Homo sapiens: one gene and its partners. The protein of the gene in region 4 purifies or fractionates together with the protein of the main gene of each other region. This does not show direct contact. Each region holds a gene or a part of one and is shown on either strand. Other genes may lie near its edges.

What was found.
Region 1: the proteins of SIGLEC12 (region 4) and UFSP2 purify together in Homo sapiens (affinity purification with mass spectrometry; 2 studies listed by BioGRID and IntAct, with this or other methods). This does not show direct contact.
Region 2: the proteins of SIGLEC12 (region 4) and TEX261 purify together in Homo sapiens (affinity purification with mass spectrometry; 2 studies listed by BioGRID and IntAct, with this or other methods). This does not show direct contact.
Region 3: the proteins of SIGLEC12 (region 4) and PLAA purify together in Homo sapiens (affinity purification with mass spectrometry; 2 studies listed by BioGRID and IntAct, with this or other methods). This does not show direct contact.

The regions. Positions count from the first base shown.
Region 1 is NC_000004.12:185,401,965-185,408,985, forward strand, and holds part of UFSP2 (ufm1-specific protease 2), read right to left. Parts: exon of another isoform or gene 6,472-7,021; coding exon 6,307-6,471; intron 6,097-6,306; coding exon 5,972-6,096; intron 3,996-5,971; exon of another isoform or gene 3,893-3,995; coding exon 3,816-3,892; intron 1,655-3,815; coding exon 1,530-1,654; intron 1-1,529. UniProt on the Homo sapiens protein: Thiol-dependent isopeptidase that specifically cleaves UFM1, a ubiquitin-like modifier protein, from conjugated proteins, such as CD274/PD-L1, CYB5R3, DDRGK1, MRE11, RPL26/uL24, TRIP4 and RPL26/uL24.
Region 2 is NC_000002.12:70,991,855-70,999,815, reverse strand, and holds the start of TEX261 (protein TEX261), read left to right. Parts: upstream 1-4,942; 5' UTR 4,943-5,058; coding exon 5,059-5,128; intron 5,129-6,040; coding exon 6,041-6,120; intron 6,121-7,832; coding exon 7,833-7,961.
Region 3 is NC_000009.12:26,916,232-26,923,252, reverse strand, and holds part of PLAA (phospholipase A-2-activating protein), read left to right. Parts: coding exon 1-75; intron 76-2,868; coding exon 2,869-3,026; intron 3,027-3,723; coding exon 3,724-3,943; intron 3,944-6,004; coding exon of another isoform or gene 6,005-6,087; coding exon 6,088-6,156; intron 6,157-6,547; coding exon of another isoform or gene 6,548-6,636; exon of another isoform or gene 6,637-7,021. UniProt on the Homo sapiens protein: Plays a role in protein ubiquitination, sorting and degradation through its association with VCP. Involved in ubiquitin-mediated membrane proteins trafficking to late endosomes in an ESCRT-dependent manner, and hence plays a role in synaptic vesicle recycling.
Region 4 is NC_000019.10:51,498,781-51,506,376, reverse strand, and holds the start of SIGLEC12 (sialic acid-binding Ig-like lectin 12 isoform a precursor), read left to right. Parts: upstream 1-4,576; 5' UTR 4,577-4,643; coding exon 4,644-5,070; intron 5,071-5,983; exon of another isoform or gene 5,984-6,003; coding exon of another isoform or gene 6,004-6,076; coding exon 6,077-6,457; intron 6,458-6,660; coding exon 6,661-6,939; intron 6,940-7,159; coding exon 7,160-7,207; intron 7,208-7,596. UniProt on the Homo sapiens protein: Putative adhesion molecule that mediates sialic-acid dependent binding to cells. The sialic acid recognition site may be masked by cis interactions with sialic acids on the same cell surface.

The DNA of each region.
Region 1 (7,021 bases), on a different chromosome or scaffold from region 4:
CTGACTGAGCTTGGTGTGTCCTTCCAGCCTCACCTCTTCGCCTAGCTCTGGACGCACTGATCTACCTGCAGTGCGGCTTTCACTGTTTCTACAAGGCAGGGGCCACCACAGCACCAGCCTCGTAGAAGCACCTGAGATACCATTTTTTTTTTCTCGAGAGTCCTTTTTGCACTCTCCTTCTCTGTCCTACCCTAAAGGTTTTAGCTCCCGAAAAACCTCGTGTAATACTAGTGCTTAGGACAGTGCCTGGCACTTGTTAGGTACTTTAATAAATACTGAATGGAATGAACACCTTGCTACAGAACAAGAATATTGCTACTATATTCAGTAAGATACATGCACCAGTCAAAAAACCTTTTATAGACTTCAAATTCCAAATGCTGTGAAAGAGAAAAGGAAAAAAAAACACTTAAAACTGTAACAACACATTTCTATCCTATTAGTGTTTATACCCTTATCATAAACAAAAGACTTCAGTAAACTGAGGATATAACAGAGTTGGACTACACACATTAAAAACTTTTTTTTGAGCTGGAATTTCACTCCTGTTGCCCAGGCTGGGGTGCAATGGCGCCATCTCAGCTCACTGCAACCTCTGCCTCCCGGGTTCAAGTGATTCCCCTGCCTCAGCCTCCCAAATAGCCAAGATTATAGGCGCCCACCACCACACCTGGCTTATTTTTGCATTTTTAGTAGAGATGGGGTTTCACCATGTTGGCCAGGCTGGTCTCGAATTCCTGATCTCAGGTGATCTGCCCACCTCAGCCTCCCAAAGTGCTGGGATTACAGGTGTGAGCCACCACGCCTGGCTTAAAACTCTTTAACATATTAAAACATTTTATCTTTAGTTTATAGTTTAAAAGGTGGTTATGTATTCTCTGCAATTTCAATGTATTTGGCAGCGAATATAAATGTTACTTAAAATTCAAGTTAATTATGTTTTACAATACTTTCTCCTAAAGACTTGGTACTGAGTTTTCATATGTGAGAATTAGTTGCCTATGAATTAACAAATTTTTACCTCCTTTATCTGCTATTGTAAGTAAGAATACTCTTAAATATGTATCAACTTCAAACCCTTTATAGAATGAGATTAGGTTATATGTAAATGAATTAAAATTAGTCAAGCCTCCATAATGTCTAGCATACTGCTTAGCTATCTTTTGGTTAATTCTAAAATTTTAAAAGTTTATATATTCTGCTCATCTATTTTAAGACATTGATAAACTTTGATACATTTGTTTATGAAAGCTCTAAAATCTCCAAAGGAATATATTTATGAGTGTGTGTCCTATTATTAATTTTAATAGCTGAGAAAGTTTCTATAAACCTAAATTTTGTCTTTTGCAATGTGCTTTGTTCTTGCACATTCCCTATACAGAGACGGCTACTTACAACAGCCTCAGAAGGCCTCCACACAGGGAGATCTCTGCCCTCAGCTTATTGTCTTTCTGTTACCAGCCAGTTTGTGATCCTTCATTTCTAGCTTCTTTGCCTTTTGTCTCAATTTGTGTTAAATGGATACTTACCTTTTCCAAAATAACTTGCAGGTCTTCAGCACCGGTATAATGTGGATCTAGAATCAGAAACTTTATCTGCCCTGTAATCTCATTCCATGCAACTCCTAGTATTGTGTGGGCCAAAACTCCTCCCCCTATAGAAGAAAAAATAGGAAATACGAATGAAGGCATAAACAAATGTCAAATGCCTATTCAATTTAAATAGACAGATTACGGCCGGGCGTGGTGGCTCACACCTGTAATCCCAGCACTTTGGGAGGTGGGTGGATCACGAGGTCAGGAGATGGAGACCATCCTGGCTAATGCAGTGAAACCCTGTCTCTACTAAAAAAATACAAAAAAAATAGCTGGGCTTGGTGGCAGGCGCCTGTAGTCCCAGCTCCTGCTGAGGCAGGAGAATGGCATGAACCTGGGAGACGGAGCTTGCACTGAGCCGAGATCATGCCACCGCACTCCAGCCTGGGCGACACAGCAAGACTCTCAAAAAAAAAAACAAAAAAAAACAACATTACTTTGCTTATTAACTGATCTAAAATAGCATTAAAATGGACTACCCTACACTATAAAAGACACAATGTCAGATATACTCTGAAAGGATAAAATTACATCTTTAACACAAAAGATACAATCATATCTATAATCACATACAATTTATATTCTACATTCACATCCATATAATTACCTAAAATGGATTTAGAAAGGGCCATAAACTCCTCCCAACAGAGTAACAATCTGCTGTAGTGCCTCTCTCAGCAGATGGTCCTGCTGCCTCTGAGTACCTCCAGTGATATAGCACTCCATTCATTAAGTTTTTTTTTTTTTTTTTTTTTTTGAGCTAGAGTCTCACGTCACCCAGGCTGGAGTGCGATAGCGTGACCTCGGCTCACTGCAACCTCTGCCTTCCAGGTTCAAGCAATTCTCCTGCCTCAGCCTCCTGAGTAGCTGAGACTACAGGCGCACACCAGCACACCCAGCGAATTTTTTGTATTTTTTTTTAGTAGAGACGGGGTTTCACTGTTAGCCAGGATGGTCTCGATCTCCTGACCTCGTGATCGACCCACCTTGGCCTCCCAAAGTGCTGGGATTACAGGCGTGAGCCACTGTGCCCAGTCTTTTTTTTTGAGACAGAGTCTTGCTCTGCTACCCAGGCTGGAGTACAGTGGGCAATCCCGGCTCACTGCAACCTCCACCTCACAGCTCAAGCGATTCTCCTGTTTCAGCATCCCAAGTAGTTGGGATTACAGGTGTGTGCCACCACACCCAGCTAAATTTTGTATTTTTAGTAGAGACAGTGTTTTGCCATGTTGGCCAGGCTGGTCTCGAACTCTTGGCCTCAAGTGATCCGCCCGCCTCAGCCTCCCAAAGTGCTGGATTACAGGCATGAGCCACTGTGCCTGGCTAGAAAATGTATTTTAAAACATAAGCTCATACAATCAGGAGTCAGGCGTGAGCTACTGGGCCCGGCCTACTCATTAAGTTCTTTCTGATATTTTGCTGACATCAGCCTACCTCCATTTCTTTTTTTTTTTTTTTTCTTTTGAGACAGTGTCTCACTTTTGTAACCCAGGCTGGAGAGCAGTGGATCTCTTGGCTCACTGCAGCCTCCTGGGCTCAAGCAATCCTCCCACCTCAGTCTCCTGAATAGCTGGCACTATAGGCTCACACTACCATGCCAGCTAATTTGTGTGTTTTTTTTTTTTTGGTAGAGACGCGGTCTGGCCCATGCTGGTCTTGAATTCCTGGATGCAAGCTATCCTCCTGCCTCAGCCTCCCGAAGTGCTAGGATTACAGGTGTGAGCCACTATGCCCAGCTTCTACCTCCATTTCTTACACACTAGTCTCACCTTGCCTTCTGTCATCACAGGACAGGTCTTGTTCTTCAAAGAATTAAGCATCTTTAGATCAGCTAATCCAATCTTCTTATTTTACAAATAAAATCCACAGAGGTAAGTAATTGCAAAATCTCACAAAGCCAGCCCAGTTATGACAGAGTCATGACTTACGAAGCTCAGCTGAGTGACCGTTTCCTCTTTTTAATACTGTTCTCAGCTCTTTAAATGTTTGAACATAGCTACCATTTCTCAGCCTTTACTTCTTCTGGTTATTATAATCTTTTTTGTAACCTTTAAGCCACCTTAGAAATTTTTTTCAATATCCAGAGATCCATACATATGGTGTAAAAGTTAATTTCAAAATTTTTTAAATGACTGATTTTATGCAACATTAAATATTTATATCAATGATAAGTTTTGCATATTACTCACTCTACCAAAAACAGTGTCTGAAACAGCTTACCGATCATAACTGGAGTTCCTTCACTTTGGAAATGATTAGCCAGTTCCCGTCCTTGAGAGGCAATTTCTGAACCTTGGCTAGAAAGAAACCATTTTCTATCAGATGAACTACTTCCAACACTACGGTCAAATAATGAGCTAGGAGACAATGTTTCCTACTTTCTTGTTTTTTCGGGTGTTACTGAAAAAATATATAAATGTAAAAAAATTAAGTGTTAGGGAACTGAGAGCAATTAAACTGTGCAATTTAAAGCAACATAAACTCAAAATACTTAAGGCCACCAAGTGTGCTAGATAAGACGCTAAAAGACCTTGATTTTCTGCTTCTTGAACTGTATAAAGGAGGCCTGGGTTTTTAACATGAAGTTAAAACATCACCTTGGTGCTCAGGGAGTTCTTATGGATGGATTAATCAGAAGAATGAGTGTTAAGTCCTGGGTTCTTGCCTTCTTGCTGGTAGACTTCTTAGTCTGTATTTCCTCATCTTTAAATTGGGACCCAAAACGCTGACCTGTCTACATAACAGAGGAGAGTCTAGGCCTAAAATACATGTCTGTGAAATCAATGTGAAAACTGCAAAATGTTTTCAAGTGCAACATACTATTTTTAGGGAATCTCAGAATTTTTACTTTTGAAAAGAGAAAGATAGATGGGATAATGAAGGGAGGTATTTTTTGGGGGAAGGTGCCCGGTGGTGCTAAACCTTAGCTCTTGCTTAATGAGGAACGTATGTTTTAATGTACCAAAACTGTAACTTTTAAAAAAAGTTCTTCACTACTTAAGTCTGTCATTGTTTTATATTATTATTATTTTTTGAGATGGAGGCTCGCTCTGTTGCCCAGGCTGGAGTGGAGTGGCGCGATCTCAGCTCACTGCAACCTCCGCCTCTCAGGTTCAAGCGATTCTCCTTCCTCAGCCTCCTGAGTAGCTGGGATTACAGACGTGTGCCACCATGCCCGGCTCATTTTTATATTTTTAGTAGAGACAGGGTTTCACCATGTTGGCCAGGCTGGTGTCAAACTGCCAACCTCAGGTGATCCACCCACCTTGGCCTCCCAAAGTGCTGGGATTACAGGCGTGAGCCACTGTGCCCAGCCAGTCTGTCATTTTTTTACCACTGATTTCCATAACCACTGAGGAAAGGATAAAATTACATCTTTAACACATAAAAGATACAATGAGGACGATGTTACTGTAATTAACAATAGAAAATGTATTTTATTTGTTTTTTGGCTTTTCTTTTTTTTTTTTTTTTTTTTTAGAAAATGTATTTTTCTGTTTTTTTTTTTTGAAAGGGAGTCTCGCTTTGTTGCCTGTGCTGGAGTGCAGTGGCATGATCTTGGCTCACTGCAACCTCCACCTCCTGGGTTCAAGCGATTCTCCTGCCTCAGCCTCCCAAGTAGCTGGGATTACAGGCATGCGCCACCATACCCAGCTAATTTTTTTTGTATTTTTAGTAGAGACAGGGTTTTGCTCTGCTGGCCAGGCTGGTCTCAAACTCCTGACCTCAGGGGATCCACCCACCTCGGCCTCCCAAAGTGCTACGATTACAGGCGTGAGCCACTGCACCTGGCTAGAAAATGTATTTTAAAACATAAGCTCATACAATCAGGAGTCAGCTAGTTATGGTCATAGAAAATAATTAATTTATATTTTCTCATTTTAATATTAGAATTATGGTTAAGATCATTGGAAAAGACAAAATGAATACATTATTTGAACACATTACTAGATTATTAACGTTTTAGAAAGAAAAAGAGCAGGAGGTAAACAAAAAGGTCAGTCATAGTTCAACATTTGAGTTTTGCCTTTTAAGACTTTTTAAAAGATTGGAGCATAAAGAAACTGTTAATATAATTTTTATGACTTTACTCAACGTTAATATATTTTTAAGTTTTCCTCTTCTAGGCTAAAATTAGGCCTAAATAATACAAGTATACATTACATCACAAAGTTTATTCATAAAATCAGAGCCTTCCAAAAAAAAATGAAAAAAAATTAAGATTAAAAAATGAGATTTATAAAGCAATGAGTAATAAGGAAGAAGGAAAAGGAATAAAAAGAAATAAGGGAAGATACCATTTTTTCTATTATTTTAATTAAAATGACAGACTGTCACTTTGAAATGATTTATCTAATTTCTTAAAGTGTGCTTACCTGACAAACAGGATTTTTGACGTTATACCGATCAATTGGTTTAGTACCAGCTGCACCTCAATAGATCCAATCCATTGCCGCGATCCGACAAATGTTGCTGGTTTGTCCCCGGCATCGACTAGAGCCTTGATGTATTTAAAAATATAAAACATCCATACACAAGACAGCTATTAAAAACGATGTTTAGGGCATTTTCCCTGATTACCAGTACAAGAATTTTTTTTTCTTCAAAACAGAAATAAGTCTGCACCATGAGGTAACAAAAATTATCAATGGTATATTAAGGGCTAATGAAACATACAGTTGATTATAATTTAAAACGGTATGTTCTGTACCTGCTGAATTTCTCTGTGTGTTGGAATGGACCTCTCTGTGTATCCCTGATGTTTGAACCAAGAGCAGATAGTCTGCAGAGATCGATAAGCACAGCCCCAGCCATTGTCATCTATGCGATCCTGCATATAATGATGATAGCCATATATGCCCTGGACCACATAAATCTATATACAGAGAAGAAACACAGTAAAATATTAACTTAGGATAGAAGTACATATTCTATATATGCTCCCGAATTATGTTTAATGTTCTTAGAGTTAGACTGTTACTTTAGTTCCTTATAAAAATGCCTTCACAGATCTATGGTTTAACATTATACCTTCTTGGCTTTTTATTTGAGGTTCAAAGTCCTTACCACAGGGCCCAGCAGGACCTACCTTCTGGCCTCCTCTCCAATTTCATCTCCTAAACTTTTCCCTATTGCTCCCTCTACTTTCGGTTCCCATATACCAGGGGCAATATGACCTTGGAGCCTCATGGTTCTCTTGGCCTGGAACTCTCTTTTCCCAAATTAATTGTACAGCTTGCACTCTTACTTCACTCAGGTTTCCATTTAGATGTCAAAGGTCTTCCTTGACCATCCAGTCTACAAACGGCCCACTCATTCTCTCACTACCCCACCCCCTGCCTCACCTGTCATCTCTGTCCTCTTTATGTTTTTATTTTTCAAAGTATATCATGACTTGATATACTTTAAATGATACATTACTTATC
Region 2 (7,961 bases), on a different chromosome or scaffold from region 4:
CTGTCAATATTTAAATCAACAAACTGGTCAGTCACCTTTGAACCTCCAAACCCTTTCACTCTTGAAATGAGTCCCTTGAATTGAGTGTGGGGACCTGCTATCCTTCCTTCCCTCCTTCAGGCAAGGCCTGGGTTTGCTCCCCTTGTAACTCCTTCCCCAAACACAGCCTAAGGATCCTCCCTGAGCCCCGCCCTGTCCTGTTGGGTCAGGTGGACCTGACTTCTCACCACTCTCAGGAAATGGTGGCCTCTCTCTTCCTGCCATCGGAGGAAATTTGAATCCTCAGCCTTACCTCTCTCAGGCTACTTTTGGCTTTAAAACTGTGGGAAGTGAAAGTGCCCAGCCCTGGAAAAACAAGGCTGGTTCAAAGGTGAAAGCACTTAACCTTTTGGGGCCTCCAGTTTCCCTTATCTACAATTCTGGAGAGGGATGGGGGATATTTTTATAGTTTCCTCCTTCCCTGGGAAGATGTTTAGGGAAAAAAAAATACCAATTGAGACTTTACTGGTTGGGTGTGGTGTCTCATGCTTGTAATCCCAGCACTTTGGGAGGCTGAGGCAGGTGGATCACTTGAGGCCAGCCTGGCCATCATGACAAAACTCCATCTCTACAAAAATATAAAAATTATCTGGGCATGGTGGTGAATGCCTGTAATACCAGCTGCTTGGGAGGCTGAGGCAGGAGAATTGCTTGAACCCGGGAAGCGGAGGTTGCAGTGAGCTGAGATTGTGCCACTGCACTCCAGCCTGGGCAACAGAGCAAGACTCCATGTCAAATAAGTAAATAAATGAGAGAGACAGAGAGAGAGAGAGAGAGTGAGAGAGAGATACTTTACTGTGCCGTTACTCACTGATGCTTCCGTGTCTCCAATACAAACTCCTCAATAGAAAAGATCTGGACATGAAGCTCCCCTATTGGAACAATCAGGGATGACCAAGTCCCATGACCTAAGGTTAGCAAACTTACCAGTAAGGCACAACTCAATGGTTTTTCCTCACATAGGGACTGGGTAACAACAGGAAATTGGAGACATCCTAGCAGGCCCATCATATTATGAACATTTTAATTGTAAACTTCATTTATGAATAGGTAACACCTTTCCATATCTTTACATAGTTCAATATTTTAAGGATATAAAAAGACATACAGTGGGAATGCTGTTTCCTACTCTGAAACCCCACCCCTTCTCTTCCTAGGAAGCAAGCAATATTACTGTTTTCTAACGTATCCTTCCAGAGATATTTTATAGAAAGAAATGTGTAGCCTGGGTGACGTGGCTCATGCCTGTATTACCAAAGTACTACTTTGGGAGGCTGTGGCAGGAGGATTGCTTGAGCCCAGGAGTTCAAGACCAGCCTGGACAGCATAATGAGACCTCATCTGTACAAAAAATAAAAATAAAAAAATCAGCCAGGTGTTATGGCATGCACTTGTAGTCCCAGCTACTTGAGAGGCTGAAGTGGGAGGATGTCTTGAGCCCTGTGGGTTGAGGGTGCAGTGAGCCATGATCTTGTCACTGTGCTCCAGCCTGGGTGACAGAGTGAGACCCTGTCCCTCCCTGCAAAAAATGTGTATATAGATTCTTTTCCCCATTCTTTTGCTTTTTTTCAAAAATAGTCCTATATAGGTACATAAAGAACACCCTCATTGGCTTTTAGGGCTAAATATACTTAACCAGTTTCCTATCAATGAACACTTAGGTTGTTTTCAGTCTCTTACAGTGCTGCAATGAAAAGCCTTGTAAATAAGCATATGGTGAGGCCGGGTGCAGTGGCTCATAACTGTAATCCCAGTACTTTGGGAGGCCAAGGTGTGTGGGTTACTTGAGGTCAGGAGTTTGAGACCAGCCTCGCCAACATGGCGAAATCCCATCTCTACAAAAATACAAAAATTAGCTGGATGTGGTGGTGGGCACCTGTAATCCCAACTGCTCAGGAGGCTGGGGCAGGAGAATCGGTTGAACCCAGGAGGCAGAGGTTGCAGTGAGCTGAAATCGTGCCACTGCACTCCAGCCTGGGCAACAGAACAAGACTCCATCTCAAAAAAAAAAAAAAAAAGGATATAGCCCTTTAAGGTCTCACTCTGTCACCCAGGCTGGAGTGCAGTGGTGTGATCCTGGTTCACTGCAACCTTGAACTCCCAGGCTCAAGCGATCTCCCACCTCAGACTCCTGAGTAGCCAGGACTACCGGCACCATTGCACCTGGATAACTTCTAAATTTTTTGTAGAGATGGGGTCTCACTTTGTTGTCTAGGTCAATCTTGAACTCCTAGGCTCAAGTAATTCTCCTGCCTAGGCCTCCCAAAGTGCTAGGATTATAGGCGTGAGCCACCCCACCATGCCCCATATACATATCTCTCAGGTATTCTTAACTGGGGGTCCAGGGACCCCTTAGAAGTCAGCAGGTATAGAATTTAGGGAGACAATTTTAAGACGCCTGGAAACTTGGAAGGAGAAAAGTTTCTATTTTTATCTATAACTCTCTCATATGATTAATGATATCTTGAAATATCATTTACCCTCACTCCTACTTTGTCATTGTGGTAGGTAGCTATTAGATTTTGCAATAGGTCTGCTTATGTCATATATTAATAGAGAAGCACATAAATTACAGAATACATTTGGTTTTCTAAAAATAGTTTAATACTTGCATTTCTATATAATTGGTTTGCTTTGTAATCTTTTTTGTTTTATTTTTGTTTTTGTTTTTGTTTTGAGACGGAGTCTCCCTCTGTCCCCCAGGCTGGAGTGCAGTGACGCGATCTCGGCTCACTGCAAGCTCCGCCTCCCGGGTTCACGCCATTCTCCTGCCTCAGCCTCCTGAGTAGCTGGGACTACAGGCGCCCGCCACCATGCCCGGCTAATTTTTTTTTTTGTATTTTTTAGTGGAGACAGAGTTTCACCGTGTTAGCCAGGATGGTCTCAATCTCCTGACCTCGTGATCCTCCCGCCTCGGCCTCCCAAAGTGCTGGGATTACAGGCGTGAGCCACCGCGCCCGGCAACTGCAATTTTTTTTTTTTTTGAGACAAGTTTTCATTCTGTCATCCCAGCTGGAATGCAGTGGCCCAATCATAGCTCACTGCAGCCGCCATCTCCTGGACTCAAGTAATCCTCCTGCCTCAGCCCAGAGTAACTGCGACTACAGGTACGCACCACCATGCCTGGCCATTTTAAAATTTTTCTTTGCCCAGGCTGGTCTTGAACTCCTGGCCTCAAGTGATCCTCCTACCTCAGCCTCCCAAAGTACTGGGATTACAGGCATGAGCCACTGTGCCCAGCCTGCTTTGTAATCTTTTTTTTTTTTTTTTTCTTGAGACGGAGTCTCGCTCTGTCGCCCAGGCTGGAGTGCAGTGGCGCAATCTCGGCTCACTGCAACTTCTGCCTCCCGGGTTCACGCTCTTCTCCTGCCTCAGTTTCTTGAGTAGCTGGGACTACAGGCGCCCGCCACCAAGCCCGGCTAATTTTTTGTATTTTTAGTAGAGACTGGGTTTCACCGTGTTAGCCAGGATGGGCTTTGTAATCTTATGTATTTTGTTGGGGGGAGGGGGAAGCTATGCATAACATAAAATTGACCGTTTTAACCATTTTACAATTCTGTAACACTGTATACAATTCAGTGACATTAAGCACATTCACACTGTTGTGATGCCATCAGCACCATCCATCTTCCCAAACTGAAACCCTGTATCCATTAAAAAGTAACTCCCCATTCTTTGTCCCCCAGACCCTGGCAAGCACCATTTAACTTTCTGCCCATGATTTTGACTACTCTGGGTACCTCATATGAGGGGAATCATACAATGTGTGTCCTTCCCTATTTGGCTTATTTCACTTAGCATCATGCCTTCAAGGTTCATTGATGTTGTAGCATGTGTCAGAATTTCACTTCATTTTAAGGCTAGATAATATTCCATTGTATGTTTATAGCACTTTATGTCTATCTTTTCGTCAACCGATGGACATTTGGGTTGCTTCCCTCTTCTGACCATTGTGAATAATGCTATGAATATTGGTATACAAATGTCTCTGCTTTCTCAGTTCTTTTGGGTATATACCCAGAAGTAGAATTGCTAAATCATACGGTAATTGTTTTTTTTAGGAATACGTATTTTTATGCAGGAAAAATATGATTCTGAAATAAGCCTACTAGACTCTTGTTCTACATACTTTATTTTGCATGCCTGTCTCCGCCACTAGATGGGAGACTTGTTGACAAGGACTAACCGGTTCCAGGTGCCCCTCAGGAACCCTCCCAGAGGTGTAGTAAATGCATCCAGCGCCTAGCGGACGCCCTGCGTGCCCGGCAAGGGGTGAGGTGCAGGCGATACAAAGGTGCAGAATGTACCCCAAAAGAACAGCCTAGAGGGGAATTAGGCCGGAGGATGACCGATTAAAATCACCCCAACTCCTGATTGTGCCGCTTCCTAGGTGCATGACCCAGGGCAACTTCCTTTGGCCCCGGCTTCCCCGTCTATAAAATGATTTACATTATCTGCTCAAATTTCCGACAAGAACACACCTCGCCTTTATCACAGAGCGTGGCACATATTAGGAATTCAATAATTTTGTCCCTATCACCTGCGATAGCAAGAGACAGACTTGTCCGCAACCTGCCGGGAGGCAGGTTCTGGGGAGGTTGCTGGGGCGCGGTCGGGCGGCCCTGTCCGGCCCTGGACCACCTCCAGGCTGGTACGGGAGTGCACAGGGAGGGACTGGAGGCTGCACTCCGAGCCCCAGTATGGGCGCTTGGTCGTCTCCGCCCCTGGGCACCGTCCCGCCTCCCTCTGGCTGCAGCGGTCTGCATTCATTCCCCTCAGTGGAGCGGGGGATCCTGGCGGGGCAGCGGCGGTTGGCCCTCCTCTCCGGCGGGCGGCGCTAGCGCGAGCCTGGCCCCGGGCAGCGCTAGGGCCGGGCTCCTCTCGGCGGCGGCGCACCGTCGTCCTGTCGTCCGCGGGGCGGGGACGCGGCGGCGGCGGCGGCGGTGGCGGCTGTGTGTCGCCGGAGCCGAAGCGCGCAGGCCCGTCCCGGTGGCCGGGGAGCGGGCGGGTGGGGGCGCCATGTGGTTCATGTACCTGCTGAGCTGGCTGTCGCTCTTCATCCAGGTGGCCTTCATCACGCTGGCTGTCGGTGAGACTGCACGACCCCGGCCCGCGCGGGCTCCCGCCCCGGCATCGGTGCTCGTTGGGGGTCGCATCGCGGGGGTTTCGGAGCCACTCGGGGGACCACTGCCCGGCGCTCCCGGCCTTCGCCGCCCCAACCCCTTCCCGCCTGATCCTGCCCCTCCTGTCGAGCCTGGCAGCCCGGCCTGACCGTGGCTCCTTCCAGGTGTCACAGAGTCCGCTCCGGCACTGCCCGAGAAAGGGTGACTCGAGTGCCGCCCCCGCGTCTGCGGACCGCTAACCGCTGCGGCTCCCACTCTTCGCGGGCCTGCCGCGCGGAACTTTTCCCCAACGCCTACCGCCGCCTTTGCGCCTCTGGCCCTTCATGCTCCCTGCTCTCTCCACCTTTGACACTTCTCCTCTGGCTGGTTCCCATTCGGCCTCAGTTGAGATGTCATCTTTTCCGGGAAGTCCACAGGGGTTGATGGTCCAGCAGTGCCCTGTCCTTTCCCTAAAGTAGCATTTCTCACACTAAACTCGTCTGTCTCTCCCTACTGTTCCCCTTCCCTTTCCCAAGCTGGGTCAGGGAAGGACCCTTGTCTGTCTTTTTCAGCTGTATTCTCAGCCCAGGGACCTGGCTCATGCCAAGTGCCCAGCAGGTGTTTATTGAATACGTGAAATTCCGTTTTCTGAGCCAGAGGTTATCATTGTACTGTGGCATCAAATGCAGACTTTCGTTGATTTTTATGAGATTTGTCCTTAGTTGCCCTAAGAAAGTTTTACTTCTCCAGACTTGGAAGGGCAACACATGGGATGTTTGGTTTGTTCTTGACCTTCTGGGGTCCATGAAGGGTGGATGGGGACTGGGCTGCAGAGAGAGGGGTGACCAGGATGGTGGGAGTGACCCTGGCTGATAGTCTCCCTGCCTCCCACCCTGCAGCGGCTGGACTCTATTACCTGGCAGAACTGATAGAAGAATACACAGTGGCCACCAGCAGGATCATAAAATACATGATCTGGGTAAGTGGCATCTTTCTCCAGGAGTCCTCCTCACTCTTTTGCCCTGCCTCAAAAGCAGGAAGTGGGGAGAGTTTGGCATGGATGATGAGGCCTGTGTCTCTGCTGTTTCCTGAGCATACACTCTTACCTCCTTGCCCTGAACGCTGTCTTTTGGGTCTGCACTCCTGGGCCCAGATCTTCCCTGGCCGCCTTCCCCAAGTGGCATTGTTTCACTGCAGGCCTTGTGCTCTAGTCCTTAAGGTGACAGCGAAGTGTACTTCTCTGTTGACAAGACCGTAGATTTGACTTTGCTTAGCTCTCTCCCGCTGTCTTTAGCCCTTTGCTCTGCTCACAGCATTTAAAACTTAGAGGAGCCATAAGACAGTTTTGCATATATGTTCATTGCCATCTTTCTAATCGGATCAAGTGATTTGTCCTAAGATCGGCACAGCTTCGCTGCCCTCGCCCTTCCCTGGTCTCATGGGAGGCTTCTCTTACTGAAGACACAGTCCTTGCCACTGATATCAAAGCCATAGGGGTGACTGCTGGTGGACAGACTTCCTTCAGCTGCAGGAAAGGCTGGGGGTAGGGGTGCCATTGGAGAGAAAGCGTCCACAGCCCCTCAAGTCGCCTGGTGTCAGCAGCCATGTGCACTCTGGGCATGGCTGAGGTTGGGAGTTCACAGTGGAGGCAAGACTATAGCCCTCAGCTCTGGTCCAGAGGCCCAGCTTGTGGGTGTTGGCACAGTAATTAGCCCTTCATTCAGCCAACTGTCATTTGCTAAGCACTGACAACTGTAGGTACTTATCAGTAGTGTTTTTCAAACTGTAGGCATGATTCATTATTTGGCTGTATAGTAGGTCACAATCAGCATTTTTTAAAAAAAGGAACATAAATAGAATTGAAATTTGAGCTTTGAATCATATATATGTATATATGTGTTGGGGTCACAGTGTAAAATGTTTTTCTTTTTCTTTTTTTTTTTTTGAGATGGAGTTTCGCTCTTATTACCCAGGCTGGAGTGCAGTGGCACAATCTCAGCTCACCGCAACCTCTGCCTCCTGGGTTCAAGCGATTCTCCTGCCTCAGCCTCCCGAGTAGCTGGGATTATAGGCATGTGCCACCATGCCTGGCTAATTTTGTATTTTTAGTAGAGATGGGGTTTCTCCATGTTGGTCAGGCTGGTCACAAACTCCCAACCTCAGGTGATCTGCCTGCCTTGGCCTCCCAAAGTGTTGGGATTCCAGGCGTGAGCCACCTCGCCTGGCAGATGTTTTTCTTACTGTGGGTTGCTGTCAAAAAGTTTGAGAAATGGGCTGGGTGCGGTGGCTCACACCTGTAATCCCAGCACTTTGGGAGGCCATCAGAAGTTTGAGACCAGCCTGGCCAACATGGCAAAACCCTGTCTCTACTAAAGACACAAAAATTAGCTGGGCGTGGTTGTGCATGCCTGTAGTCCCAACTACTCAGGAGGCTGAGGCAAGAGAATTGCTTGAATCCAGGAGATCGCGCCACTGCACTCCAGCCTGGATGACAGAGTGAGACTCCGTCTCAAAAAAAAAAAAAAAAATGTTGCCTTTTGGGAGCAGAGAACCTAGCTGGGGAGGCCAGACCTGTGAAATGAGGAGATTGAAGCATGAACCTAGTGCTGCCCAGAGCGGGCTGGGGGTTGGTGAGTCCAGGAACGTTGCCTGGAAGAAGCGCCCTGCACTGTCTGCCTCTGGTTGTTTCAGTTCTCCACCGCTGTACTGATTGGCCTCTACGTCTTTGAGCGCTTCCCCACCAGCATGATTGGAGTGGGCCTATTCACCAACCTCGTCTACTTTGGCCTCCTCCAGACCTTCCCCTTCATCATGCTGACC
Region 3 (7,021 bases), on a different chromosome or scaffold from region 4:
TTGATTCTAAAACTGGCGATTTAGGGGACATCAATGCTGAGCAGCTTCCTGGGAGGGAACATCTTAATGAACCTGGTAAGTATTTTATTGTACCTAGTAGAAAAAATTCACCATATTTGGCTTTTGGAACAATTAGAAGAAAAATAAATGTTGTTTTGCTTGTGTTTTTCATTGCTAGATGCTGATTTTTGAGGATTTTTACTATTACATATAATCACTATGAGAAACCATGTTCTTGCCTCTGTCTCACAGAAGACTTTGAATTAAGCTTCTCATAAACAGGAATTAAAAAATAAATCTCCCAACACTTAGATCATTTACAGTAGACACTCAAAAGGCACTCATTTAATACTTTTTGGTTGATTGGATTCTCTGAGAGGGGTTACAAACTGAATATTAAAATGAGTTTAAATACGAAATTAGCCAGGTGTGATGGCATGCGCTTGTAGTCCCAGCTACTCAGGAGGCTGAGGTGGGAGGATGGTTTGAGCCCAGAAGGTTGAGGCTGCGGTGAGCCGACACCACACCATTGCATTCCAGCCTGGGTGACAGAGTGTGACTCTGTCTCAAAAAAAAAAAAAAATGAGTTAAAATCAAGCATTGTCTGTGTAATGAGTTGGGAATCATTCGAGTTTGAAATCAGAAGACCGTAGTCATCTCAAATGAAATCTTGGGTTGGATGTATCTCTTGATTGCATTATTATACCAGTGCTTCTCAAAGCTTGATTCATGGACCTCTGGGGATTCTGAGATCCTTTCAGGATGTCCATGAGGTCAAAACTAATTTTTGTAATACTAGATATTATTTGAATGTTGTACATTGTATTAATGTTTGCACTTATGGTGCAAAAACAATGGTGGGTAAAACCACTGGTTCACTAGTATGTAAATCAAGCCAGGGGCTTTAAACCATTCTGGTAAGTTACTATGTTCTACTTGCATGCAGTTGTAGTTTAAAAAAAAAAAACAATAAAAACAAAAAAAAACAGTTTGCCATTAAGCATGTCCTTGATGAGGTATTAATATTAAGAATTATCAGTTTTATTACATTTTGACACATCTTTTTAAATATTCCGGGTGAGAAAACCTAAAGTAGACATAAAGTAAGTCAAAATACTGTGGTGTCTCAAAGAAAAGAACATGCGCAGTCATTTGAGTTGCAGGCTAAACTACCAGTTTTTTCATGGAGTGCTATTTTTATTTGAAAGAATGACTACGGTTATTCAGGCTTTGGTATTTGGCAGACGTTTTTTGAAAATGAACAAATTGAGCATGTTCCGTCAAGGAAAATAACTGATAATATATGTTGCCAAAGATAAAATTCAAGTGTTTGAGTGAAAATTGAAATGTAGGAAAAATGTATCTCCACCAGGAACTTAGTAGCTTCCCATTTGTATTGATACTAGTGGTAATAACATTAACAAATGCCATTTTTTAATATTGAATAATAAACTGTATGAATATGCAGAAGATCTGCGTAAGTTATTGAACCATTATTTTCCATATGACTAGTATCTGATACCATCTCAGACATGGGTAAAAGATCCATTCAAAGTACAAGATAGACCAGTGGATTTTAGTATAATAGAGCATGAAAAATTCATTGATGTGGTTTCAGATTGTACACTGTAGCGTTTAAAAAACTAGTATTTCTGGCCTATCCACATTTTCTGAAAAGACTTGTCTTCTCTTTTTCAACTACCTACGTGTGTTAGGCTGGATTTTCTTTTTGTAGTCAACCAAAATAACAAATTGAAACAGATTAAGATGGGGTAAGAGGGGAGATTAAAGTATGATGGACTAGGCCAGAACTGGCATATATCACATCCACCCAGATTCCACTGACCATTACTCAGTAATGTGACATCATGTGACTGCCCAATGCAAGGGGACTAGATAATGTAGTCTCTGGCTAGACAACTACAGCTGTATCTAATGGAAGAAGAGCATGATTCTTCGGAGGATGGATAGCTGTCTCCGCCACTGAAGGCCTTGTTGAGAACATGACATTTGTGTAAAGTTGTTAAAGAGGGAAAGGAGCAAATACTGCCAATATCTGTGTGAAGAGCATCATAGGCAGAATAAACAGCTAATACAAAGGCTCTGTGGCTGAAGTTGGGAGATGAGGGGACAGGGGGAATAGTAGAAAGTAAGGTCATGTAGGATAGTGTGGACAATTTATATTTGGTCTTGTACACTACTCAAGAGTTTAGGCTTTTACCAAGTGAGATGAAAAGCATTGATGGGTTTCAAGCAGAAGAGTGTCAGGACCTACTTAAACTTTTGAAAAAATTCCTGAAGTTGCTGGGTGGAATATACACTGTCGGGGGCCAAGAGTACAGGAAAGAGGCCGTTGAATCAACCCAACTGAGAAATGATGGTGGCTTGGACCAAGGGATGATGATGGAGATATTAAGGAGACAGTTTTCTAGATATATTTTAAAGAATGAGCTGATAGCAGTAGCTGAAGGGGGTGCTGAGAAGTAGCCGAAGGAGCGATGGGGTTGAGAGAAAGGTATCAGGCTTTTCTACTTTTCAGTTTGAGCCACTGGATTAATGGAGAGCCATTTACGGAATGAAATGTGTTAGGAAGATATATTCACTAATAAAACTTGTTTTATTTTTGATGGGCCAGTTGCTTCCTAGTAGAATCACGTTTTGTTAACCTTCCTTTGATTAATAATATTTCCTTTTAACTGTTATTTTCTTTTGGCCACATTTTTAAATCTTTTATTTGATACAATTTTATTTTGAAACAAAATCCATATTCTCTTATGTGTAAATTTTAATGTTAAGAATTTTCTATTTAAATGTTTTTCAATTTTACATTGCCATTCTACCTTTGATTCTTAAAATTTTTATTTTAAGGTACTAGAGAAGGACAGACTCGTCTAATCAGAGATGGGGAGAAAGTCGAAGCCTATCAGTGGAGTGTTAGTGAAGGGAGGTGGATAAAAATTGGTGATGTTGTTGGCTCATCTGGTGCTAATCAGCAAACATCTGGAAAAGTTTTATATGAAGGGAAAGTATGTCGACTTCTACTTTCTAATTACTATTGTCTTAAATATTAGGCAAATTAAAGGTTTCCTTTGCCCCATAGTGATAAAATTTCCTTTGTTTTGACATTTAAAAATCCATTACTGTGGGAAACTAATCTTTTTTTTCCCTGTCTTGAAATAGATATTTTAAAAGTATCTTTCCATGTAGTGAGAGCTGCATTTGAGAGACAAATTAGCAATTGTCTGTCATGTAGTAGTTTCTATACAAAAGCTGTTCCCAGCCATTTTGGATTGGGAGCTTCTGTGCCACCTTTCATCAAATGCCTCATGCCTGGCTATATTTAACTTGACAAGACATGAGAGACCCTGCAGGGCAGTGCTTAAAATGCCAGCACGTTTTGGTGAGTAGGGCACAGTAACAGCTGATAATTTTGATCTTGATATCAAACCAGTTGGAAACTCTGCTTTGGCTCTAGAGTTAATATGTAGTTGTAATCCATCCTTCATCCTCACCCCCATCCCCTAATGAAATACTAATTTTGCATCACATGCAGATGGGGGCTGTTAATCTTTATCTGCCAAAAACGAAGATTTTAGCACTGCACTTTGGAGAAAGTTTAAGTACTGTAATTATTAAAGAACACATCTGTGTTATGTTGTATATGTCATTAATATATGTGAACAGATAATAAGCATGTATCTCCTTTTTATATTCCTACTTTAGGAATTTGATTATGTTTTCTCAATTGATGTCAATGAAGGTGGACCATCATATAAATTGCCATATAATACCAGTGATGACCCTTGGTTAACTGCATACAACTTCTTACAGAAGAATGATTTGAATCCTATGTTTCTGGATCAAGTAGCTAAATTTATTATTGATAACACAAAAGGTCAAATGTTGGGACTTGGGAATCCCAGCTTTTCAGATCCATTTACAGGTAAGTTAGTGTTTATATTGAGTCTTATGTAGTTCCATTAGTGTTGATTGATTTTTTTGATGTTTTCAAATAGTCATGTGATTAGCTTTTTCAATAAATACCAATATCTACAGCAGGGTTTTACTTCACATTCATATGTTTAAGCCTCAAATGATGAAGTAATTCTGTATTTTACAGAAATAATAGTAAATTGTTGTCTTTCAAAAATACAATCATACTATAATGGAATTTCAGTTATTTGAAACAAAAATAAACTTGTAAGTTCTTTTATATAGTGTTTCTTTTAAAAAATTATATTTTGGCAAAATTTAGTAAATCTTTTTTTCACATGAGGCTAAATTGGTCAGTCATGCATCAAATCTAAAAGTGAACCCTATGGGTAGTTTTAGTTTATATGTGATGTGTATTCTACACGTTCATTTTAAGTTAATTGTTTGTAACATCGTATACATCGTATCTCATGTTATAAATGCAGTTAGGTGCTCATACCAGTCTGTAAATTGTAATCCTAATGGTACTAGTCCAAATTCTGGCCCCTAGGAAGTGGAATCTAATCCTAGTAATATTAACGTGAGTTCTGGAGACTGGTGTAGGAGGAAATAAAATGCCTCCTCTAAATAACATTTTGAGATAGGCACTTTACTGTTAATGTTTTCCTCTCATCATTTCTGACTCAACATTTTTCAGGTGCTAGTGCTCTTCCTTGTTTTACGAGGACTTTGTATTATATTCCTGTCTCAAATCCTTATGTAGATCCACCTTTTCTTCCCTGACAGCTACTCCACATTCCCAAATTATCTCCTCATTCTACTTCAAAATTTCATTGCCCATTCATAAAATAAAACTAATGTTACCTGCATGTTGATTTAAATAGAATTATCAGGCCAGGTGTGGTGGCTGACGCCTGTAATCCCAGCACTTTGGGAGGCCAAGGCAGGCAGATCACAAGGTCAGGAGTTCAAGACCAGTCTGGCCAACATAGCGAAACCCTGTCTCTACTAAAAAAAAAAAAAAAAAAAAATACAAAAAATTAGCCAGGTGTGATGGATGTGCGCCTGTAATCCCAGCTCCTTGGAAAACTGAGGCAGGAGAATCACGTGAACCTGGGAGGCAGAGGTGGCAGCGAGCCAAGATCGCACCATTGCACTCCAACCTGGGCGATAGTGCAAGATTCCGTCTGAAAAAAATCAAAAAATTTTAAAAAAAATTATCAAAGTAACTTACTACTGAATTACAGATGATCTGATCCTCCAAATACTTGCACTTAAAAAGAAAATAATTGTTTAGTATGTGGATATTTTTGTTGTTGGAATTTCAGACTGTAGTTCAAGAGTGAACACAGATTGTAGTACTGTGTAAGCTATTTTGCATGTGGGATACAGGAAAGGAATTAAAGCAGCTGACTTTGTCTGGAAATCTAGGAAGCACTTGGCTTGTTTTGCCCTTCTGAGACTCTTAACTTTTTCAGCATCCTTACTGTTTTTTGTTTTTTGTTTTTTGTTTTTTTTGTGGACAACCTGATTATTTCCCTAGAGGTACTAACAAAACATAGGCACATACGCCACACATTCGTAAATGTATAAATGGAAGTCTCTTTCCTTTGTAGTTTTCATCCCTTTTCTAATTCTCTTCTCCAGTAGGTTGTAAGCTTCAGTGGATATAAGCAATTTTGTTCCCTTCTGGATCCCCAGCCCTGAGTCCATTGTTTGACACATGAATTAATGAACCTAGAGCTCTAAATGATTAACATTTAGTGCCTGTGGTTTTGATAACAATAACAACAGCAGGAACTCTTGTGAATTTGTATAGGAACAGGGACAGGAATTGATTGTATGTTTATATATTTAGGTCAGATATTACCTGCAATTCTCTTTTGATATTTGAATTAAGTTTTAATATTTAAGTGCTGGGGCTAAGGTATAATAAAGCATTAAAGTTAAGAAAACAAAACTTGGAGAATCATTAAAATTTCAGTTTTTTCCCAGTTATAAGACTTCTGACTATAGTTTCTGTCATTCTATCATGTGAAAGTTTTGCTCTTCTGTTTTTCTCCAAATGTAGGTTCTTCTAAAACAAGCATTGTGCTGTTTGAAAAATTCAGAACTTTGGTGCACTTCTGCCTTTTCTTTATTTTGCATGCACAGGTGGTGGTCGGTATGTTCCGGGCTCTTCGGGATCTTCTAACACACTACCCACAGCAGATCCTTTTACAGGTGGGATGTAGTTTTGATTCATGTATCTTTCTTCACTAAATGTATAGCATCTTGCATCACATGGCTTTACATCTTGGAGATGTCATCCAGTAATTGGTAATTCCCTTATCTGCATTTCCAATTTTGATGGATTTCCTTTTCTTTAACTTCTGATTTTTGCTTTTTCCTGGAGTGGTTGTGTAGATTCCCTCGTGACTTTTAAATAGCATATTATTAGAATTCATTGTTTTCTCCAGGGGTCCTTCCCACCAGGAGAGCAGTATAGTTAAGAATATAGGTTTTAGAGTCAGACAAACCTTGGTTCAAAATTGGGCTCTACCACTTACTTGCTATGAGAAGTTGGCAAGTTACCTAACCTGTCTGAGCCTATTTTTTTTATCTGTGAAATTAGATAATAGGGGAACCCACCAACCAAGACACAGCATGAGTGCTATCACTGGCGAGATGCTACCAATCACGAGCAGAGAAGGAGCCATGTGAGCCCTGATATTGGATGGAGCAGTACAATCAAGAAGTCTCCCCAGGCATATTTTGACTTAACATGGAAGGAGACATTCCACCCAACTACCCAGGAGTAGTCTTCCTAATCTAAGTTATTAATGTCCTTCTTGAAGCCCTTGAAGTGTTGGTGTATCTCTTCAAAATGAATTTATTTACCAAGGTATGCATGCCTCAGCATCAACACTACTGGAAAAAGTGCCAGAGTTGGACTTTAAGGCAGCTGAAGAAGTCTCTATTTTCAGAATGGCTTTTGATATCTTGTATAATGCTGTTGTTGGATCTTCAGACAGAGTTCCTCGACAGTATACTCAGTTTGGGAAGAGATCATAGCGTTTAGGTATCCACTGGCCTTGCAGACTGGTAC
Region 4 (7,596 bases):
TTCAGGCATTGGGGAAATATTCCCATTCCAAAAAGGAGAAATTGCCCCAAAGAAAGTGGCAACAGGCTCCATGTAAATCCAAATTCCTGCAGGCAGACATTAAACCTTAGAGCTTAATAATAATCTTTGACTTTGTGTCCCACATCCTGGGCACATTGGTGCAAGGGGTGAGCTCCCAAGGCCGTGGGCAGTTCTGCCTGTGGCTTTGACAGGTGTAGGCCACGTGGCTGCTCTCATAGGTTGGAGATGAGTGCCTGTAGCTTTTCCATGTTGAGGTTGCAAGCTGCTGATGACTCTACACTTCCCTATCACTCCCCTAAGACTCTTCCACACACACACCCCTCAGCCCCACAGCAAAGGCAGGGGGAGATTCACAACACAGGCTTTGAGGCCTGTTTTCTTCCATCTCCTGAAAACACCACCTACCTCATCTTTCCTTTTCCCCAATAGTTTTGAGCTACGTTCTTTTGGATACATGTTATGGTCACATGGGTGAAAATTCAAAATGCATAGCAGAGTCTGTCCCCAGAATCGCCCAGCGTCCATCTAGGCTGCCCTGGGCCTTGGTTTGCTCACCTGGAGGATCTCAGAGGTGCTCCAATATCAATAGTGAGACTGCCCACACCCTCCTCTAGGGCTGTGTGTGATTCCACTGCATGGATGGACTCTGATTGTGTAGCATCTCCCAGTGGAAAATCATGGCACTAATTTTATCGTACTGCAGAAACACTGTAATGAATAATCATAAATCTACTTCCACAAGCAATATCTGAGTGTATAGCATAGTTCCTAAAAGCAAAATATAGCAGTGTTATACGTTCTTTCTAATTTTAATAAAATGAAGTTGTTCTCAACTAAAAGTGGGCAAGTTTACATTCCCAACAGTGAGCTGAGAAGGTGTGTATGGCCCTGCACTTCAGCCTGTATCAGTGTCTGTTCCATCCACCAGTCTCTTTCTGTATCATTCCTCCTTGTCTTGATCACTGTCTTTCTGACCCTCTGTCTCTTTCTCTACAGCATCCACCACCTTGGGGAATGGCTCAGCCCTTCCAGTCCTGGAAAGCCAGTCCCTGTATGTGGTCTGTGCTGTTGACAGCAATCCCCCTGCCAGGCTGAGCTGGACCTGGGGGAGCCCAACCCTGAGCCTCTCACAGCCCTTGAATCCTGGGCTGCTGGAACTGCCTCAAGTGTATCTGAGGGACGAAGGGGAATTCACCTGCAGAGCTCAGAACCCTCCAGGAGTGATGCTGCAGGCGGTCAAGGGGGGCTGGAGCCCCAGCCTGGTCTTCCTGTCCTTTTGTGTCATCTTCATCGTGTGAGCATTGACCCTGGAGAGGAAGGGAGAGCCCTGGGGGAGGGTGGCCTGGGAGCAGAATCCCTGAAGCCGGAGCTGGAAGGACCTGGCTGAGTCAGGAGTATGAAGCAAGGGAGAGAATGAGCATGGGTGCATGGTGAGAATTTCATGAGTGCCCTTGTTTGTGGGGCCACATGTCTGTGACAAACCTCGGGCCCCATTGTCCAGGAAAAAAGAGCCTCTGTTTTCAATGTTGGGGTCTCTGGGACTACAGCCTGCTTGAATTCCTCCCCTGAAAATGGGCTTTTCTTTTCTACCACTTGGCCAGGCTGCAAATTATCCAAACTTTTACACTCTGCTTCCCTTTTAAATACAATTTCCAGCTTTCAGTGATTTCTTTCTTTGCTCACACATGAGCATATGCTGTTAGAAGCAACCAGGCCATGTCTTCAATGCTTTGCTTCTTAGACATTTCTTCCACGAGATACTGAAAATCTTCACTCTTGTGCTCAAAGCTCCACAGATTCCTAGGGCAGGGGCACAATGCAGTGAAGTTCTTTGCTAAGGCATAACAAAATGGACCATCGCTCTGGTTTCCAATAAGTTCCTCATTTCCGTCTGAGACCTCTTCAGCTTGGCCTTCACTGTCCATATCACGACCAATATTTCAGTCATAACTATTCAACCAGTCTCTAGGAAGTTTCAAACTTTCCTTCATCTTTCTGTCTTTTTGTGAGCTCTCCACACTCTTCCAACTTTTGCCTGTTAACCAGTTCCAAAGTTGTTTTCAAATTTTCAGGTGTCTTTGTAGCAATGCCCCACTCCTCTGTACCAATTTTCTGTATTAGTTCATTCTTCCATTGATATAAAGAAATACCTGTGACTGGGTAACTTATAAAGACAAGAGGAATAATCGGCTCGTGGTTCTGCAGGCTGTACAGGAAGCAGGATGTTGACATCTGCTTGGCTTCTGGGGAGTTCCTCAGGAAACTTACAATCATGGCAAAAAACAAAGGGGAAGCCAGCATGTCACATGGCCAGAGTAGCAGGATAGAGCAAATGGGGAGATGCTGCACACAGACAACAAGCAGATCTTGTTAGAACTCACCCACTCTCACAAGAACAGCTCCAAGAAGATGGTGCTAAGCCATTCATGAGAAATCCACCCCCGTGATCCAACCACCTCCCACTACAACCCACCTTCAATATTGAGGCCTATAATTCGGCATGAGATTTGGTGGGGACACAGATCCAAACCATATCAGGCTCTAATCCTATTAGGCTAATCCAAACCACCTATCTAAACACCATGCCTTCTAATACTATCACATGGGGGTTCAAAGGTCAACAAATGAATTTTGAGGAGAGACATGTAGCTGTAGCACTTGTCACTCTGGTCCTTAATATCTTCCTCTCCAAATTATGGAAGTGGGTCTAGAGGGCCCATCAGCTCCTCTGAGTCATATGTGGTTCAAACGTTCTTCCTTTGCAGATTCTCTGTGGCTTCCTCATGTCTCTCCTTCCCATTTTTCTGCTTTTCTTTGCCAACTGGGGACTGTGGGAAAGAGATGGGCCGTGGTCGAGCCCTTCTTCCCATTGAGATGCTGCAACTGTCCTTACGGGAAGAAAGTGACACGGCAAGGATGGGGGCCCAGGAGCAGATTGGTCTGCAGGATGAGATACAAGCTGCAAATGCAGGAATTAGTGGTGTCAGGGAGAGGAGCAGCTATGCATGCCCCAATCCTGCACATTTCCTTTTCAATTATCACAGCCAACTGACTCTACTCCAGGTTATGGGCAATTGGGGACAACATGGGGATGGGAAGATCCATGGAGCTGAGTAAAATAAAACAGATTGTGGTTTTTATGTAAAAATAGTCTTTAGAAAAACCTATGCAAAGCCATAGTATTGAAGGCAGTGCACTCAGATGATAAAACTACATAGAAAAGCAAGGAGACCATTATCATTAAAGTGAGGCTGGGGCATCTTCAGGAGGAACTGCATGTGGCCTATAGGAAGGGGAAACACAGGGCTGAATAAATGAATGCAATTTCTTTCTTCATCTCATGGGAGAAATTTGGCAATTATCTTGTGATGTTCTATTTCTTGAACAGTGATAATTTGGTGAAAATCACTGAGTCATTTTTTTAGGTGGCACTTTTATTTACTTGTATTACATTTCCCCAAAAATCATTGTTTCAAGAAAAGCTGACATGGGTCTAAGGAGGGCGAATCTTGCAGGATTTTCCCCACCTTCCTCCCAGTACATAGCATACAGTTTCAAAAACTCTTCTGCTGAATTCAGGTGCATTTCTTCTCCCATGAAATCCTGTCCATCATTGAGCGTGGACACGCCAGGGCTGGTGTCCTCGCTCCACGTCTCCTGTTCACCTGAAACCCTGGGAGCAGAGCCTGCAGGAACAAAGGGCCAGCAGACCCCTCATGCTCTGGAGTAAGGAGGACTTGTGAGAGAGCAGTGGTGAAGGATCCCATCCTGAACCCAGAGAGCCATGGCCGAGAGAGAAACGCCTGCCCCTTTAGAAATCTGTCCCTTCCCATCCAACATTCCTCCCTTCCAGACCTCACTGTACAACAGTCACAGCCTTAGCTTCTCAGGCCTCCTGTGAACTGGGCTCTTCTCTGTGTCTTTGGTGTGTATCAACACACGGAATCCTCACCTCCACGACCCCGTGTCTCTCTGCTCAGTCCTCCCGAGACTGATTCCCCAACATAGGAGAGAGCGACCACACCCTGCCTGGTACCCCCACTGAAGCTCCTGCCATGGAGAGCTCAGATATCAGGAGCCTCAGTGTCTCCCCACTACACAGTGACTCTTTGGGGACAGTGTCTAGCTCTGCTGTGTTGAACTCCACCTCACGGCCGCTGAGGGAGGAAGGAGAGGTTGCCTGCTCATCCCACCTGCACCCCCATCTCTTATATCCTAGTGTCACCTCTGACCTACAGAGAGACATCCACAGCCTGTACTTCATAGGTCTGGCCACATGGGACTCATTTTCACCTTATGGAAAATATCACCCAAGGGGAAGGGCACTGAGAGGGAGGCAGTGGGCGGGGTGGGCCCTGCATGGGGTTGGAATCTGGGTGAGTCTTTCATCCTCTCTGGCCTCAGGGTCCCCAGGAGTGGACGGGGTAGTGGACGGTGGATCTTCCAGGGGTGACCCGGCCCTGACAGTGTCTGTGTGTGAAGTTCCTCCTGTGAGGTCACCGTTCAGAACCCACCCCCAACTTCCTGTGCGGCTTCCTCGAAATCTTGAGTTCTCAGTTCCTGAGAGAAGAACCCTGAGGAACAGACTTACCTCAGCAACCCTGGCACCTCCAACCCGACACATGCTACTGCTGCTGCTACTGCTGCCACCCCTGCTCTGTGGGAGAGTGGGGGCTAAGGAACAGAAGGATTACCTGCTGACAATGCAGAAGTCCGTGACGGTGCAGGAGGGCCTGTGTGTCTCTGTGCTTTGCTCCTTCTCCTACCCCCAAAATGGCTGGACTGCCTCCGATCCAGTTCATGGCTACTGGTTCCGGGCAGGGGACCATGTAAGCCGGAACATTCCAGTGGCCACAAACAACCCAGCTCGAGCAGTGCAGGAGGAGACTCGGGACCGATTCCACCTCCTTGGGGACCCACAGAACAAGGATTGTACCCTGAGCATCAGAGACACCAGAGAGAGTGATGCAGGGACATACGTCTTTTGTGTAGAGAGAGGAAATATGAAATGGAATTATAAATATGACCAGCTCTCTGTGAATGTGACAGGTAAGGCACGGGCTCCAAGAGAGGCCAAAGGCAAATGTGATGAGGGCTTTAGGGCACGGCTGAGACGGGACACATGTCCTGGGAGGGGGCCGGGGGTGATGGACTCAGGGGAGGAGCTGGACCAGAGCCTGAGCTTCCCCAGGACCGCACCTTGGATGCCCCTCCTGATCCTGCAAGCCCCTCCCCTCACCAGCCCTGACCCACAGGCCTGACATCCTCATCCTGCCTCTGACGCTGGCACTGTGGCATGTGGGGCCTTATGACTCCTTGTTTTGGGGCCTGTCCTAGGCATGGCCGGGGTTTAGCACCATCCCAGGCCTCTCCCCACCAGATGCCAGAAGCACCCACCCCACCCATGCAGCGAGACAATTATCTCCACACATTGTCAAACGTCCTGGGGGGTTAAGTCCTCCCCAGTTGAGAGCCTTAGGTCTACACAACCCCGTGACTCTCTCAGGCCAGGCCAGGGAGGAAGCACTTCCTGGCGCAAACCAAGGGCAGCAGAGGCACCTGAGCCTGGACAGGGAGACTCAGCACACGGCCCCTCCATCTCTCATGCCCCGAGGTCCTCGGAGATCCACATTTAGATGCTCAAAAGACAGGAGGGACCTCCACGATGGTCCAGAGGCCGGGAGGGCAGGACCTACGTGTCTGGTGCAGGCCCTGGTGCTTCAGGGAAGCCCGGAGGTAGGAGGCGGGACACGGTCTCTTCTCCTCCCTGGGTGGGTCTCTAGGGTCTCTGAGCTTTAGGGTTTCCTTCACTCTGTGCAGAGGGAATGAGTTCCTATAGCATGTGGGTTTGCAGTTTCTCTTCCATGCAGGGCTGAGGTCTCCAGCTCCTCTCCAGCCCCCTGTGGGTCCCACAGCCCTGCCCCTCCTCTCCCTCCCCCTTCTCTGCTCACACAGGGAGCCCAGGAAGCCTCTGCCTCAGAGATGCTGCTGCCCCTGCTATGGGCAAATGAAGAGAGGGACAGTGGGGGCTGGGCTGACCCTCGTTTCTCCACAGCGTCCCAGGACCTACTGTCAAGATACAGGCTGGAGGTGCCAGAGTCGGTGACTGTGCAGGAGGGTCTGTGTGTCTCTGTGCCCTGCAGTGTCCTTTACCCCCATTACAACTGGACTGCCTCTAGCCCTGTTTATGGATCCTGGTTCAAGGAAGGGGCCGATATACCATGGGATATTCCAGTGGCCACAAACACCCCAAGTGGAAAAGTGCAAGAGGATACCCACGGTCGATTCCTCCTCCTTGGGGACCCACAGACCAACAACTGCTCCCTGAGCATCAGAGATGCCAGGAAGGGGGATTCAGGGAAGTACTACTTCCAGGTGGAGAGAGGAAGCAGGAAATGGAACTACATATATGACAAGCTCTCTGTGCATGTGACAGGTAAATCTCTGGCTCTAGGACCAGCCAGAGGGGAAGGCCCGAGGGCCGCAGGGTAGGGCTGAGGTGGGACCCCCATCCTGGGAGGGAGTTGGAGGTGAAGCATATCTGGCTCAGGGGAGGAGTAAGACCAGAGCCTGAGCCTCCTCAGCACCACACTTCAGACCCCAACACCCTCATTTTGCCTGTCTCCCTTTCATCACCAGCCCTGACTCACATGCCCACCTTCTCCATCCCGGGGACCCTGGAGTCTGGCCACCCCAGGAACCTGACCTGCTCTGTGCCCTGGGCCTGTGAACAGGGGACGCCCCCCACGATCACCTGGATGGGGGCCTCCGTGTCCTCCCTGGACCCCACTATCACTCGCTCCTCGATGCTCAGCCTCATCCCACAGCCCCAGGACCATGGCACCAGCCTCACCTGTCAGGTGACCTTGCCTGGGGCCGGCGTGACCATGACCAGGGCTGTCCGACTCAACATATCCTGTGAGTTCTGGGCCAGGACGTCTGGGTCTTTGATCGGGATTCCTTGAGGCCAGTTGGATGTGGGACCCAGACTCAAGGATCTGGGTCCTGGAATCTTGGCTGGGAGTTGGGGGTCAGGAGGATGCTGGCTCCACCTTCCCCATTTATGGGGCTCCTGGGGAGACAGGGTCAGTGTCCCCAGTCCTCAAAGTGATGGGAACTCCGTGTCTTTCTGTTCCAGATCCTCCTCAGAACTTGACCATGACTGTCTTCCAAGGAGATGGCACAGGTAAGATGGAGTCCTCTCCCTGGGGCTGGAGGAGCAGAGCCTTCAACTCAGGGGAGAGCCAGGACTCACCCTGGTGACCTGAGACCCTTTTGTGGGTGAGCCCCGGCCCCCCCCTCCCTCAGCCTCAGCCTTTTGGCCACCTGAGCACCTTCTCATCACCCCTTCACTCCCCTTGAACTCCTCCACACACACACCTATTTTGGCCCCACAGCAAGGGTAGAGGGACATTCACACAGCAGCTCAAGGATTTGAGGACTCTTATCTTCCAGCTCCTGAATATTGCCTCATCCTTTTATTTTCACCAATAGTTCTGAGGTATATTCTTTTGGATACATACTATAGTCACATGGGCAAAAATTTATAATGCACAGCAGAGTCTGTCCCCAGAA